Homo sapiens: one gene and its partner. The protein of the gene in region 1 interacts with the protein of each later gene in a pairwise test. Each region holds a gene or a part of one and is shown on either strand. Other genes may lie near its edges.

Evidence for each region.
Region 2: the proteins of SCG3 (region 1) and SCG2 interact in a two-hybrid assay, tested with the Homo sapiens proteins (one study listed by IntAct).

The regions. Positions count from the first base shown.
Region 1 is NC_000015.10:51,684,498-51,691,525, forward strand, and holds part of SCG3 (secretogranin-3 isoform 1 precursor), read left to right. Parts: intron 1-3,762; coding exon 3,763-3,905; intron 3,906-4,721; coding exon 4,722-4,871; intron 4,872-7,028. UniProt on the Homo sapiens protein: Member of the granin protein family that regulates the biogenesis of secretory granules. Acts as a sorting receptor for intragranular proteins including chromogranin A/CHGA. May also play a role in angiogenesis.
Region 2 is NC_000002.12:223,599,336-223,606,917, forward strand, and holds the start of SCG2 (secretogranin-2 precursor), read right to left. Parts: upstream 3,027-7,582; 5' UTR 2,950-3,026; intron 1-2,949. UniProt on the Homo sapiens protein: Neuroendocrine protein of the granin family that regulates the biogenesis of secretory granules.

The sequences.
Region 1 (7,028 bases):
ACCCAGGAGACAAGGGCTGCAGTGAGCCAAGACCACGCCACTGCACTCCAGCCTGGGCGACAGAGCCAGACTCCATCTTAAACAAACAAACAAAACAGGAAAACCAAAGTCCTTAATGAAGCTTGCACAGTCCTGCATGGACTGCTTCCTGACTACATTTCTAGGTTCATCCTGCACACATAATCTGATAGAAACCTTGTTCTTGCCCTTCATGGCACTTCATGCAGTTTGTAATTTTACCTTCATAAGTGTGATTATTTATGATTAATGCCTTTCTCCAAAACTAAACTGAAAACTTCATAAGAATAGAGACATTGTAACCCCAGTGCCTGGAAGCCCATGAATTCATTGAATAAATTTATGAATGAATGAATGAATGAACAAATGAAATAATATATGAGGGAATAAATGAACTGCCATACCTAGGCATTAAGAAGGAAAGTGTGTTTTTCATTTTTGAGAACCAGTGCTTAGGAGTAAGTACAGGTTTTCTTCCCTGTCCTTATTCTGTTCCATAGCTACAGGAGATTTATGTTGATTATCTCTGCCAGAAAACAACTGACTATTAAATTGGACTTTCATAGGACATAATAACCTAGGAGTGTTCTGAAGTGTCACGTGTACCTATGAAGTGGGATGGAGGCAATGGGTTTATATTTTGACATATATCATATGCCATGCTACTCAGGGAAATTTACTTTTTAAAATCTTGAATTCGACTTTTTTACCTAAAATATTGGGACTACAAATAGACACTGATTATAACTGCATACAAAACAGATTCAACCACTTCAACTGAAGTGATCATTTGATTTAATAAAATAGCCTAATATTGAGTTGGCTGGATTGGTCAAACTTGTTGTACATGCAGGCAGAGACATAGATCTGTTTTTGATCTGACCGCTAATTTGAGCAACTAATTTTTTAACTGTTCAACATTTTATTACCATCCCAAGTATGTTTGGAACTACAAAGTGCTAGTCCTAATGACTTCAGGTTTACCGTAGGAGGTATTAACTCCACTTGAGATCACAGAGAAGACAGGCCAAGGTTCTTGGAGAAAATGATTTGTGAGTAAGCTTCTGGTCTCCCCTTGTGCTCTGGAAATCCTGAAACCAGAGGGTTTTTGGCCACTAAGTTGAATAGAACCTCAGATGCATGTAGACTTCATCCCAGAGGGGAAGGTAAAGGAAGCTAACTTCTGCCGGATGTGTTCCCAGACCTACTCTCGCCTTTAGGAAGCTTCCAAACAGGCTTGTACTATAGGACCCATCAATTCTCCTTTTCAGTGTTTTCTATAGTATGCACAATTTAGGATCTTTCCAAATTTCTCTTATAAAGTAGTGCTTTGGGGCTCCTGTATGCATTCGAATATTTATTGAGCAATTGCTATGTATTGGACTATGAGGTAGACAATAAACCCTGTGTAGTCAGGGAGCATGCCTAACCTTTACATCACTCTATTTCCAGTGTCTGACACATAATAAGACTTTAATTAAAATATATTGAACAAATGAATGTCAAGTGCTATGTTAGATGCTAGGGATTCAAAACATAACTGGGCAGATGATGACTTGGGACATGACCCTTTGACATTCACTTAGAATGTTGTGGCTACTTAACAAAAGTTATGTGTTAAACCCATGTTTGGCTCCCCTCTGGGAGTCTATACATGGAGGGTGAAATACCCCTTCATGAGCAGGAGGGAAGCCATTCTGAGTCATACTATCCATTTTAGAATAGTGAAGGAAATCAGGGAAAGGTGAGGAGCAATGGTCACACGTTCCACTGTTTACACCATCCAGCAAAGCACTGCTAGGGGAGACCTAAGTTCCTGGCTCAAGAGAGTACAGCAGTGCAGCAGAGCAAAGACTCTTCAGTGGGTTACTAACATCCTCCCTGTTGTGAAGTAAATGGACTGAAAAACAGTCATCTCAGTTATTTTCCAGGTCTAGGAGGCAACCAATATTCCTCCTTTTACGGATCCTGAGGGATAGATAAGTGGGAAGGGAAATAAATTCTTCCACCTCTGCATAGACTGGGGCAGTTTCTGCTCTATGTATTCCTGACAGCCTGACTTGCAATCCGCAAATGGAAAAATCAGACACATAATAGTGAGTCTCTGCTCCTGAAAAATAGATGACGATCCAAATTTTCAGCCAGCCAGGAGGAGAACTGATTTTATGTTTGTTTGTTTGTTTGTTTGTATGTTTGTTTGTTTGTTTTTCTTAGGGGCTTTTCTGCTTTTTTGTCTCTCTGGTACTCAGCTCAAAGGGCTCATGGCTCATGGGCTGGCCAACAGCTCAGCAATTTTGTACTGACAGAGAACTTCCAGTCCTCCATGTATAATTACCCCCACTCATTTTCCTAAGCTTCTTTCCAAACAAGAAAGAGATATTCTGCCTGAGGCTGCATATACCTCTATTTTCATAGAGTCTGAAAGAAAAGCCACGGGATAAATTCCCTGTCCAAATCCCCAAAACCCATGGAAGAAAAGAGCAGAATCAGAATAGAAATACTAGGCTCTTCTTTCTTTGAGTGAATATGATGAGGATTGTCTGGGCAGAATCTGGCCGGAGATTCAATTTCCATTTTCTCTAGGAGATAATTGCTGTTCCTTTGTTTCAAAATACAAATCCACTGTGCATAATAACAATAATACATTAGCTTTCATATATTAGGTTGGTGCAAAAGTAATCGCGGTTTTTGCCATTACTTTTAATGGCACAACAATCCCATGAAATAGATACCTTGTTAGACTCCTTTACAGTGATCCAAGGATATAGCTAACCAGAGATATCACTGGGGCTAAAATTCTGATCTTTCCAATCTTTCCAGAGGAAACAGGGAGAATTAAGTGCATTGTAAATTTGATCCATTCAATGTAGTATAGATTGGAGATGACTAATAATTGATTCCTGGAAGATCTCCATGGATGTGCTACAATGCTTCATTGCCACCAGCCCTTTCCCTCAGGATGGGCCCTTACTTTAGTCTGAAGTTGTATTGCCAAATGTATTCCTAGGAGAGCCAAGGGAGCATATGAGCATGCTTCTCTGCAAAGATTTACATATTGCTTTGTGCAGATCTGTTGCCATATTTTAAAAGTTTAAATTCCGGGCACATAAACTACAGTAAGATCCCTGTTCTCTAAGGATGAGTTTTGTCACCTTAAGCTGCCTTTTTTACATAAAGACACTCTAATACAAGTTCAATTAGAAGTAAATATTTATTTTAGGTGAGTCATAAAATCTTCAGTACACACTGTCTGATTCTGGGTGTGAGGTAGAAGTCCCTGCCCCTACCCCAGGAATTTGCCTGCAAAGGTAGTACATGTGGGGATATTACCAAACTATCTATTCCCTGTATGGAACTGGAATATCAAATCATACAATATATAGAAGGGTACATTGAATAATATGACATGCTATATAAATATGGCATACTATGTTAATAAAAAGTATAATATGGTTTGTATTATTGGTGATAACAATAAATGGAGACTACTTTTCTGTTGCCTTTAGCTTTTCCTTCCTCTTATAGTCACCTAAGAAAGTTTCAGAATGTCCATTATCATACTAAGTTTTTAACATGAAGACCAATTTTATTTCAAACCGAGGGTTTCTGTGGACCGAGAACCACCATAAATACATTTCAAACATATCTGAATATACAAAAGCGAAGTACAGATTATAAGTATAATATGATGCATGAAATAGATCTATGATCACTATGGTGTGAAGTTGTGGTCGTTCTGTCTAGATGATCCAGATGGTCTTCATCAACTAGACGGGACTCCTTTAACCGCTGAAGACATTGTCCATAAAATCGCTGCCAGGATTTATGAAGAAAATGACAGAGCCGTGTTTGACAAGATTGTTTCTAAACTACTTAATCTCGGCCTTGTAAGTCATTTGGTAGGAAATAAACCAAATTCCTAGTGCAGTTTAGAGTATGCCAAGAAGCCAAGTCACTTGCCTCAAGTAGCCAAGTGTTTATAATGTGTCTTCCTTCTACTAGGACCCGTAGGTTTTAAGGACAAGCAAAGCACCATTCTTTTTTTTCTAGGAGTTTATCATCCATCAGAAGAACTAGGCAAGTAGACACACGCCCAAAATGCCAGCTGCTTAAAAACCATAAGAGCCAGAGAATAGCTTATATCCAACTGGCAGTAAGGAAAGGCTTCAGAGGAAGAGGCGTATGAAGGAAGCTTAGAGGGATGGTTAGGATATAACCAGCAGAGGTAAAAGACATGTATGTGACAAAAAAAGAAATAACATGAGCAAAAGCATGTGATGTGTATTTTTGAAACTCCAGGTGATCTAATTTGAATCCACCTCAGCTTGGCTCTTCTGCCCTGACCTGGCCCTGACAGGCTTTATTAAGATGCTAATTTTGTAGGATGTCAAAGGTTATCTGACTATGACCCAAAGCTGTGGAGGGGCAATGCTCAGGGTGTTTCTCAAAATATGTGGTCCATGGGTTTCAACAGATAGAACTAACAGCTTGCATGGTGGGCCCGAAGATACTTCTTCCAGGAGTGCTGAGCAATCCCTATAACAGCCAGCATGTGGTGCAGGCGTAAGTGAGGGCTGTCTGAAAGATGGTTCAGAAGATTCCTCTTTAAAAAATACATGTTTGACTACAGTTTAGTCCACATTATTTTTTAATAACAAGACTGGGAATATAGCAGTTATATATGTTTTGCCTTTTTATGATAGATCACAGAAAGCCAAGCACATACACTGGAAGATGAAGTAGCAGAGGTTTTACAAAAATTAATCTCAAAGGAAGCCAACAATTATGAGGAGGATCCCAATAAGCCCACAAGCTGGACTGAGAATCAGGCTGGAAAAATACCAGAGAAAGTGGTATGTATGTGTATATATGCATATGCATGGGGGTGTGTGTGTGTGTGTGTGTGTGTGTGTGTGTACTTCTATCTGTATAATAATTGCCTTACTTGATACCAAAGAAGATTTGAGGTATGTGGCATTTTTAGCCCATTTATATTCAGGCCAGACATGTTGGCTCAAACCTGTAATCCCAGCACTTTGAGAGGCTGAGGTGGGAGTTGAGACCAGGAGTTCAAGACTAGACCTGGCAACATAATGAGACCCCCATCTCTACAAATAAAAATAATTAGCTGGGTGTGGTGGCACAAGCTTATAGTCTCAGCTACTCAGGAGGCTGAGAGGAAGATCGCCTGAGGCCAGGTGTTTGAGGTTGCAGTGAACTATGATTGCACCACTGCATACCGGTCTGGGTGACAGAGTGAGACCCTGTCTCAAAAAATTAATTAATTAATTAATTTAAAAATATGTATATACATAAAATACCAAAAAGTTAAAAGATATAAATGATCTCTACTCTGAAAATAATGTAAAGATTATGTTATATTCTATTATTTGGTAAAGATTACATCTTATACCCCACAGTAAAATAATACATAATAATATGTGAAGTAACAATATCACATAATAACATCTGTGTGTACAGTCCCAGTGAACTGCAAGCAAACATCTCACAGTTCTTTTGGTATCCAACATCTGTTCACAGCAGATGTCATCATCTGTGCCCAATCCCCCCACAAAGAAGTGGGTTGACTAGATCTTCTGCTACACCAGCTTTTGTGTTCCCCAGAGCTAGCTGCCTAATGCTGCCTCTCTGTTCTTGGCAATGCTCTTCCACCTGCTCCTTCCCCTTTTCATTGGTTTAGATGCCTATTTACCCAGGCTAATTTCATCCTTCCTTCCCTTTGTTGGACTCCTTGCGTCTTCATTTTTTCCTTAGCACCAACCAAGCTGTTGAGATCTTTCTCCCCACCTTGAATTCTCTTTAAAACTTTAGATGAAACTGACCATAAGGGGATATCAAATTCCTCATCTGTCCTTTGATTTTCCTCTGTAAAGCACCCAGACCCATGGCTCCTCATCTCCTCCAGCATCTTATCTCAAATACAAAGACTATAGAGGCTGATGGTTCTGTTTTAGAGAGGAGAGAAAATAGAAATTGGGTCTGGATTTCTTTTTTTTTTTTACTGGATAGCCTAAAAACTTTCCTCTGCTCTCCTTACTTCCAATCCTCACCAGCTGCCATCTTTTAAAGCAGCTTTTGAAGATTCACCCACTCAAAAAAAAAGTTCTAGATTTATCAAAAAAAAAAACCCTTATGACTTTTGCTCAAGCTTACCAGTCTGAGCTAAAATGGACACAGCTATTTCCATAATTCTTCATTCCCATTACATACTCCTATTCACCTATCTCTAAAATGTTCATATGCTTGACCTGTTTACTCATGTTACCTGAATGCATCAATGCAAATAAAACACAAATGAAATATTATTTCAACAAATATTTATTGAATACTAACTCTGTACCAAGCACTGGAAATACCATGCCTATTTAAAAAGACATAATCCCTGACTCATGAAGCTCAAAGTCTAGTGGAAGAGGTAGATCATGTTTAAATCATCATGTATTTTCATTACAATTGCATTAAGTGCTCTGAGGAAAGAAACATGGTTCTATGAGACCTCAAAAAAGGAGGCTGACCTGGACTTAGGCTCAGGAAATGCTTCCCTAAGGAAGTAACTTGAGCTGAGAACCGAAGATCAAATAGGAGTTAACTTGTGAACATGAGAGGCAGCACATAGAGAAGGATGTGTGGAGTATCCAAGCAACTGAAACAAGCACAGTGTTGCTGGCACAGAAAGAAAGAGCAAAAAGAGAAGAGACTGGGGAGGTGGACCCAGGCCAGACCATGCAGCGCCTTATGAGCCATGGATGGACTCTGATCTTTATTGTAAGAACCATGAGAATTTTCTGGTCCCCTGAAGAATTTTAAGCAAAGGAGTTACATGATCAGATTGTTAAAAAGATAACTCTGGCTATAATGTGGAAACGCAGTATTGGGCATAGATTTGGGGAGGGTGATGTTGCAGTTAGCAGGTGAGAAATGAAGGCTGCTTGGACTAGAGTGGCATAGTGGAGGGAGAAATGTGCAAATTTGGGATAAATTTTGAAAGT
Region 2 (7,582 bases), on another chromosome or scaffold:
ACTAGAAGACACTATAGCAAAAGAAATAATTGATCATTGAGGTGAGGAAAAAACATAGTAGATATTATTTCACATTAAGCTTAGGATAACTCTTTTTAAAAATTCATGAATATTTTCCACATGATTCCCACAAGCAAACCACAGGAATCTTTAGCAAAATTATTACTCATTCACCAAAAACTTGCATAGCATTCTCTTAGTTAAAACAACAGCAAAAACACTGATATGAGATTTCTTAAATTTTATTTTTTCATTTACAGAACTTGTAGTTTGATGTTTAGTACATGTTGTTTCTCTATAATAAAGCAGCAAATACTTCCCAAGATGTTTTAATTATTTTATATATTGAAGTCTATTGGCAAAATAATGTGTTGGCTTAATTTAAAACATGCATTTACACATACGCGCCCACAAATTATGTCCTTAAAGTTGTGTCAAAAAACATGTGGTTTATTTCCTGAAATGTCCATCTAATTTTGTTGCTGAAACACAGCTGCAGTTACATGACCATATATGACAAAGTAATACTTTTATATGTCAATCATACCGAATTACCTTCTGGGGAGTCCTATCCAGATATATTTTTCAGAAATAACTTGTTCTCAATCTGATACCGAATCCAATGATCCATAAATAACCTCCAGAACACGGGTCTTCTCAGATTCCAGCCAGTAGACTAAACCAATGAAGTTTCTTTTTGTGTGAACGTGCTAAACCAATAAAGTGTTTTAAAATCTCTTTGCTTCATATTTCTTCTAATAATTTATATTATGACTGTCTTGCAAAATGCAATTGTGGTTATACTTTTCATCAGCCCTTCAGAGTGTATAGTAAATAATAACAGATGCTACAGAGAGAACATAAGTTTTTTTAGCTAGTCTATTTCTGAACTTGTGAGTGTTCAGATTCAGTTTGTCTTCTGTCTGTGTCTATTTTGGTATGGACCTGTGAAATCTTAAATCACTCATACTGTTTAGAAAAATCTTAAAATAACCACTATGTAAATCCCAATTCAAATAAACACAGATGATGTGCTGAATTCTTCCTACTTAAAAATCTCCATTCATTATTTCCTCCGATGCCTTAAAATCTTACATAGGAATTAGGAAGAGGATTAGTTTTTATGTGTTTTACATTTAATATTGCTAACATTGAAAAAACTATTTTAATATTGGCTATTTTGTTGTAAACAAAATGAATGTAAGAGGAGTTTACAAGTTTGTTCATATCTTTACCAGATCATGGTTTTGTGATAGATAAGCTAAGTTATATGTATACAATTTTCTGTTAGCTTAGACATCAATTGTAGAAAATACCATTGTTCACAAGATCATATTGATGATTTTGTTTCCAGTTTTTTAGAGCCCAATAATGGCTTAGTTATGAAAACATTTTAGCATACGTATATACCTATTTAAATGATTCACGTTTACCAGAGTACTTAATTTATTGAAAGAAACATCTTGAAAGGCATTTGAGAGGATACTTCCAAAATATTTATTATAAATACATGTTTACTATAAGTAATTTTATTCATAAAATAATGAGGTTCAAATAAAAATACATTATGCACTCTTGTTTATATTATTTCAGGATTAATGTAGCTTTGGTAATCAACTTTCAACATTGGCATTTGAAATAATAATCTTAAAAACCTTACTGAACTTATTTTTTTTGAAGCCACAATACTGAAATAGTCTTAACATGTGGATTATATGCTCATCTTTAAAATCATTATCTTGGAACTGCACTTTGCTGTAAAGTTGAAGCAGACTACTCATTGCAGTTGTTTAAACCACAGCCTAAGAAGTGCTACCCTTTGCTTAACTATTCAGCTTCAGTTTGAATGACATAGTTATTGCCTTTGAGTGAGACCCAAAGGATTCTTTTCCCAGGTAGCAGCTCTTTCAAGTAGTAAAGATGTTTCAACAGCTCTACTATTCTATATGGGGTTTGATTTAAAATTGAATTTTCTGAAATCCAAATAATTAGAACATTATTTTTCCCCTGATAGCTATCATTAAAATCTCTCAAGTTAAAATGTCTTTTCTGTTGAATTCAGGCTAGAGCATTGACACATGCAGGTGACTATATGTAATTTAAGCAATTCAACTAGTTGGGATACAGAAAAAATGAAATACTTGTCCCAGACAAAATCTTTAGCAACATATTGAACATCCTCTTTAAATCAAATTATAGCAATAACAATAACAATTTACAAAGTTATGAGTATTTTCATCATGTATTCAAAATGATCATTTCTCTGTAATTCATGGTCACAGCCAAATTACAACCCAAGATAATATTTTGCCCTGGAAAAAGGAAGAATCCAGTGTTCAGGAAAATCCTAAGTTAACATCTTAGAACTAAAATTAGGAGATAATAATGTAAGCTCTTTCAAATATACAAGTTCAGAAAAGAATTTTATGTGGTTAGTTAATTCAGAGCTCTTGTAAGATAAATATCAAAGAAAAAAAACCTAGTTCCAAAATGGGTTGCCTTTATGACTAACATGCTTGACAGCCTTTGTATCATTGGAAACCTACTGTTAAGAATATTAAACATATAAATTATACCCCTGGCTTCGTATCTGGCTCTTAGTGGCAGAAATAATAAATTTTGGAAAGAAACAAGATATTGGGCTTGGTTAACTTTACATTAATCTGTGTATTGACACTAAAATCCTTAACTTTTTCACTCTTTTTTATATGATTATCTAAGTAACATTCTGGTTAGTAAATATCCAACATCAAGTAGTATAAAGCATAGACCCGATCATGTATATACACATATGTAGTGTCCTTACATTGGCTGATGAGCAGCAGGTTGCTATTCAGTTATCCTATCGACATAAGCTTGCCAAACAGTCTTTTTCTTCTCAGCTAGGAATTAAAAGAAGAGCATGCAATTTGGAACTTTCCAATAAATCAAAGAGAAAAGCAGCCTTACCTCTTTTTGTTTATATGGCAGAGGAGCTCCACAGCATATTCCTCCCCGTTCTCCGGGCGAGCTTCTCGGGCCGTTTCAGCACACGGACAGCTCCTCTGCTTATAGGGAGCCGCTGCGCCTGACTCCGCACTGCCACACTGACGTCACCGGGTTCAGCCACAAACCCCAGCACAAGCGAGGTTTTTCAAAGAACCAAGAGAAAATAATCACTTTATATTTAAAAAAAAAAAAAAAGAAAGAAAGAAAAGAAAAGAAAAAAAAGTTGCATGCTTACGCCACCTGTCTTTTTGTGGCAAAAATTGCAGTTTTCCTTTTTCTTTTATCAAAATCTTTGAGACGGAATAAACTGCTCTGCACGATTTCTCTTACAAAGAAAGAAATGTGTGTCAGACAGACATGGCTAATTGCAAGACAATCTCATCTATGTTCTAGCAACTTGTTATAATAGTTTCTTGGTGTCACTGTTGTAATTGTTGTCGTCGTTGTAAGAAAGTTTTACAGACAAGGATTATTTTTTCATCTTTGCCCACAAAGAAATTACATTACCATTTCCTGTTATAACCAAGATGAATGGAGGACACATTATAAATATGAAAGGCCATATTTCTTATCATGACCACAGCCATCATTCTTTTAAAATCATATTTATTTGAATAAAACAGAGAGTTCTCTCTCTTTTATATGAGAGCCAACTTTAATAGCTTATATAGTTTTTTAAATGGGTATTTATCAGACTTCAAGCTTAGTAGCTAATAATTCTTTATATCTCTGTTACTGTCTTTCACAATATCTGATCTCAGAAAGGGAAGCTCAGAAGTTGAGTGCTGATGAAAATACTTTCATCTACTTAAAAAAAAAGTCTTTTCACTGTTTGGGAAAAATGTGACACATACGTAACTAGAATTCATTTGCAATCGAAAGGAAGTTGTACTATAAATATTTCCCTTCTCCTGTTGAATCAGATGAGTTGAATACCTTCCATGAATGTGAACAATCCAGGGAATAATACAGCAATTAACTTTCAACCTCTCAGATTTATAATTCATAATCATTCCTCTGCCTTACCAGATAACCTGATTATATATTTCAATAATTTATATGGATATAAATTTTAAACTTTATTTTATTAAAGATATGAGTTTCTAAAAACTGTATATGTTGACATATACTTTAAGAATGCAACAGAATCTTGCCATATAAGAGATCCCATGTGTTTCTGCTAAATGAACAATCAGCCACTGACTCAATAAATTGTAATACCTACTAGGTGCCAGATACATTGCTAAATGCACAATTGTTAACTAATACAAAAATAAGTGATTTTTTTGCCTTTGATGAGCCTTTCAGCTAATGGGGATGACATGCAAATAAACACATAATTTTCATATAAATTGGAAAGCATCAATAGAGAGGTTAGCTAGCAGTGTTTGGACCATTTGGATAGCCAATGGGTTCAACCTAGAAATTCAGGGGGAAACAATGTCCTGGAATAAAAGGCCTAAGCTGAGATTTCTCACTATCAGGTTTTCTTACAAGGATTTCTAACTATGTTAGTACTTTTGAATTCCTCGAAAAAATAGGAAATGGCTTAAAGTCTTACAGAAAAAATCTTGGAAAAATGTGCCTCGATTCTCCCTATTTGGTTTTCCTAAACGACTAGGAGATCATCATTTGTGGATTGATATGAATTCATATACACTCAGACTGGGGTTATATGTCCAATTCATCCAACAAATTTTGCCTCATAGTGGTTTTTTAGGGCATGATCAAATGCTGGGTTGAAGAGACCTAAATATGACCCATTTCTCAAGCATCATCTCAATGACACCAGCTCATTCACTGACATCCTTAGCTAAGATTGCCTTAAATCTTAACAAAGCCCTGGCTAGCTGCTCCAAGTTTGACCTAATTTTCTGTCCAGCAGTTCTGTGTGACCAGTTCAACTAACCAGTATCAACGCAGCTTTAGAAAACTCTGCAATTATTCTTAAAATGTTGAGTTTGTTCAGCATAGGTCTCAAAAGCCCTCCAGAAAGTCATCCTGACTAGGCTAATTCATTTATGTGGAACTAAACTTTTTGGCAAGAACCAGAAGCTACGGTTCTTCTAAAGCCCCAGAGTCAACATCTTGCCTGGAAATATCTTCAATCATCCAAAAGACATGCAAAACCTCATTCAAAATCTCCAAGTAGATGTGAGATGCCAGGAGGCTGTTGCTGGGATGGATTGGCTCCACTAGGCTCAAGATGTGGGTAGAACAATAAGCCATTGTGGGCTATTGAATTTCTGCCTATCTTATGAGACTATGATAAATACCTCTCACTTACTGAGTTCTGTTATGATCCAAGCACTGTACTTGGAACCTAATTTAATCCTCCGGACAACTATAACAAGTAGGTATTTTTATCTCCATTTTACAGATGAAGAAACTAAAGCTCAGAAATAAGTAAGTTGCCCACTATTTTGACTTATAATTGGTAGAGCTAGAATTTGTATTTAAGTCCATTCTATGATATTTCTACAATAAAAACTATGATTCAGACACTGCTAGAGATGGAAATACAGAAATAAATATGGGATGGATTTAATCATTAAAGACCCAAGTCCAGAATTTAGTTTCTTTGACAAAAACCCCCAGTTGTCCAGTTGCTTTTCCTGGTCTAAGAAAAGCAAAGGCATAGGCCGGGACTTCTATTTGGGGCAGCACCAATGGAAAGCAAGAATAAACATTAGATCACAGCCTTGATGCTATGGGGCATACATCTTCCAAATAAGAGAACAGTTGCTGAATTAGGAAAATTCTATTCACCAGCCTGTTTTTTCAAAATCAAACTCCCCAAACATATTTTTTAACTTTCAAGTTCAGGGGTACATGTGCAGGTTTGTTACATAGGTAAACTTCTGTCATGGAAGTTTGTTGTACAGATTATTTCATCACCCAGGTATTAAGCCTACTACCCATTAGTTATTTTTCCTGATCCTCTCCCTCCTCCCACCATCCACACTCTGATAGGCTGTGTCGTTCCCCTCTTTGTGTTCATGTATTCTCATCATTTAGCTCCCACTTACAAGTGAGAACATATGGTATTTTGTTTTCTCTTCCTGCATTAGTTTTTTAAAGATAATGGCCTCCGCCTCTATCCATGTCCCTGCAAAGGACATGATCTCATTCTTTTTTTGGCTGCATAGTATTCTATGATGTATATGTGCCACATTTTCTTTATCCAGTCTGTAATTGATGGGCATTTAGGTTGATTCCACATCTTTGCTATTGTGAATAGTGCTGCAATGAACATACACATGCATGTGTCTTTATAATAGAACAATTTGTATTCCTTTGGGTATATAACCAATAATGGAATTGCTGGGTTGAATGGTAGTTTACATCTTTGAGGAATCACCACACTGTCTTCCACAATGGCTGAACTAATTTACACTCCCACCAACAGTGTATAAGCATTCCTTTTTCTCCATAACATTGCCAACATCAATTTTTTTTGTTTTTATAGATTTTTCAATGTGTTATATTTAACATATTTCCAAAAGTCACTAATTTTTTGCCAGTAGTTATTTGTTCTAAAGGGAGCTATTTCTCAAATAGAAATGTATTTGGAGAAGAATTTAAAATGATATATATATATATATATATATACACACACGTATATGTACACACACATATATATATATCAATAGTTTGTTGACATAAAATATTTTAGAGCATGTATAAAACATTAAAATAACCTATAAATCTTTGTATCACTGAACCTGTTTCAAGGAATTATTTAAGCATGCCTTACAAAATTTTAATTTTCTTGTTAGATCTAAATTGCCAACTATCATCACCGCCAAGAAACGAATCTCTATATTGTGAACGTTTTCAGAATAATTATGTACTATGTATGAAAATGGATTTTTAGAAAATTAGCTTGCATCCTCACCAGGGTGCTGTTAATTTCAAGTTAATCATTCACAATTTAACGTTAAGTAATTAGAACAGATGAGTTTGTTTTTATGACCGGATTTTCTTAAATCTTGGTCATTTTATTCTTTGTTATTCAATTTCATATTTTATCTAGACAAGATTTTGATTTCTATCATTCATACAAGCAATCCTCTACCTTAGTAATCTTTTCATTTGAAACTTCTCGCTCTTACACTCCATTACACTTCTCATTTTGTTTCAATTTATATGGAAGCAATTGAGATCCAGAAGGCCAATGTGTCTTGTTTCTCCTTTTTCTCTTGTCTGCTTCTTCCCTGTCTCTAACTGCCTCCCTGCCTGCCCTTCCCTCCCATGGAAGATCAGACTCTCACGGTGGAGTCCAGATGCAGCACGCTTCAGCTGAGGTCCTCCAGCGTTCACCTGACTGTGCCAGCAAGGAGGGTATAGTGTCTACCCCGGCCCCTCAGGGCCTTGGCTACTTGTCCTTGCTCAGTCCTCACCTGCCTGCCTGCCTTCTCTTCTTTTTACTTTTTTTTCTTTACGCTCCTTGTTTACTCTTTACCACCTTTATCTTTTGCTTCCAAAATTTAAATTCCATTCTCTTAGTTGTAGTGCGCTTTATTAACAAATGACTGTTTTTTAACTCAGTGTCAAAGAAGAGTGAAATATTTTTCCCCTTCCCTTGCAAAGG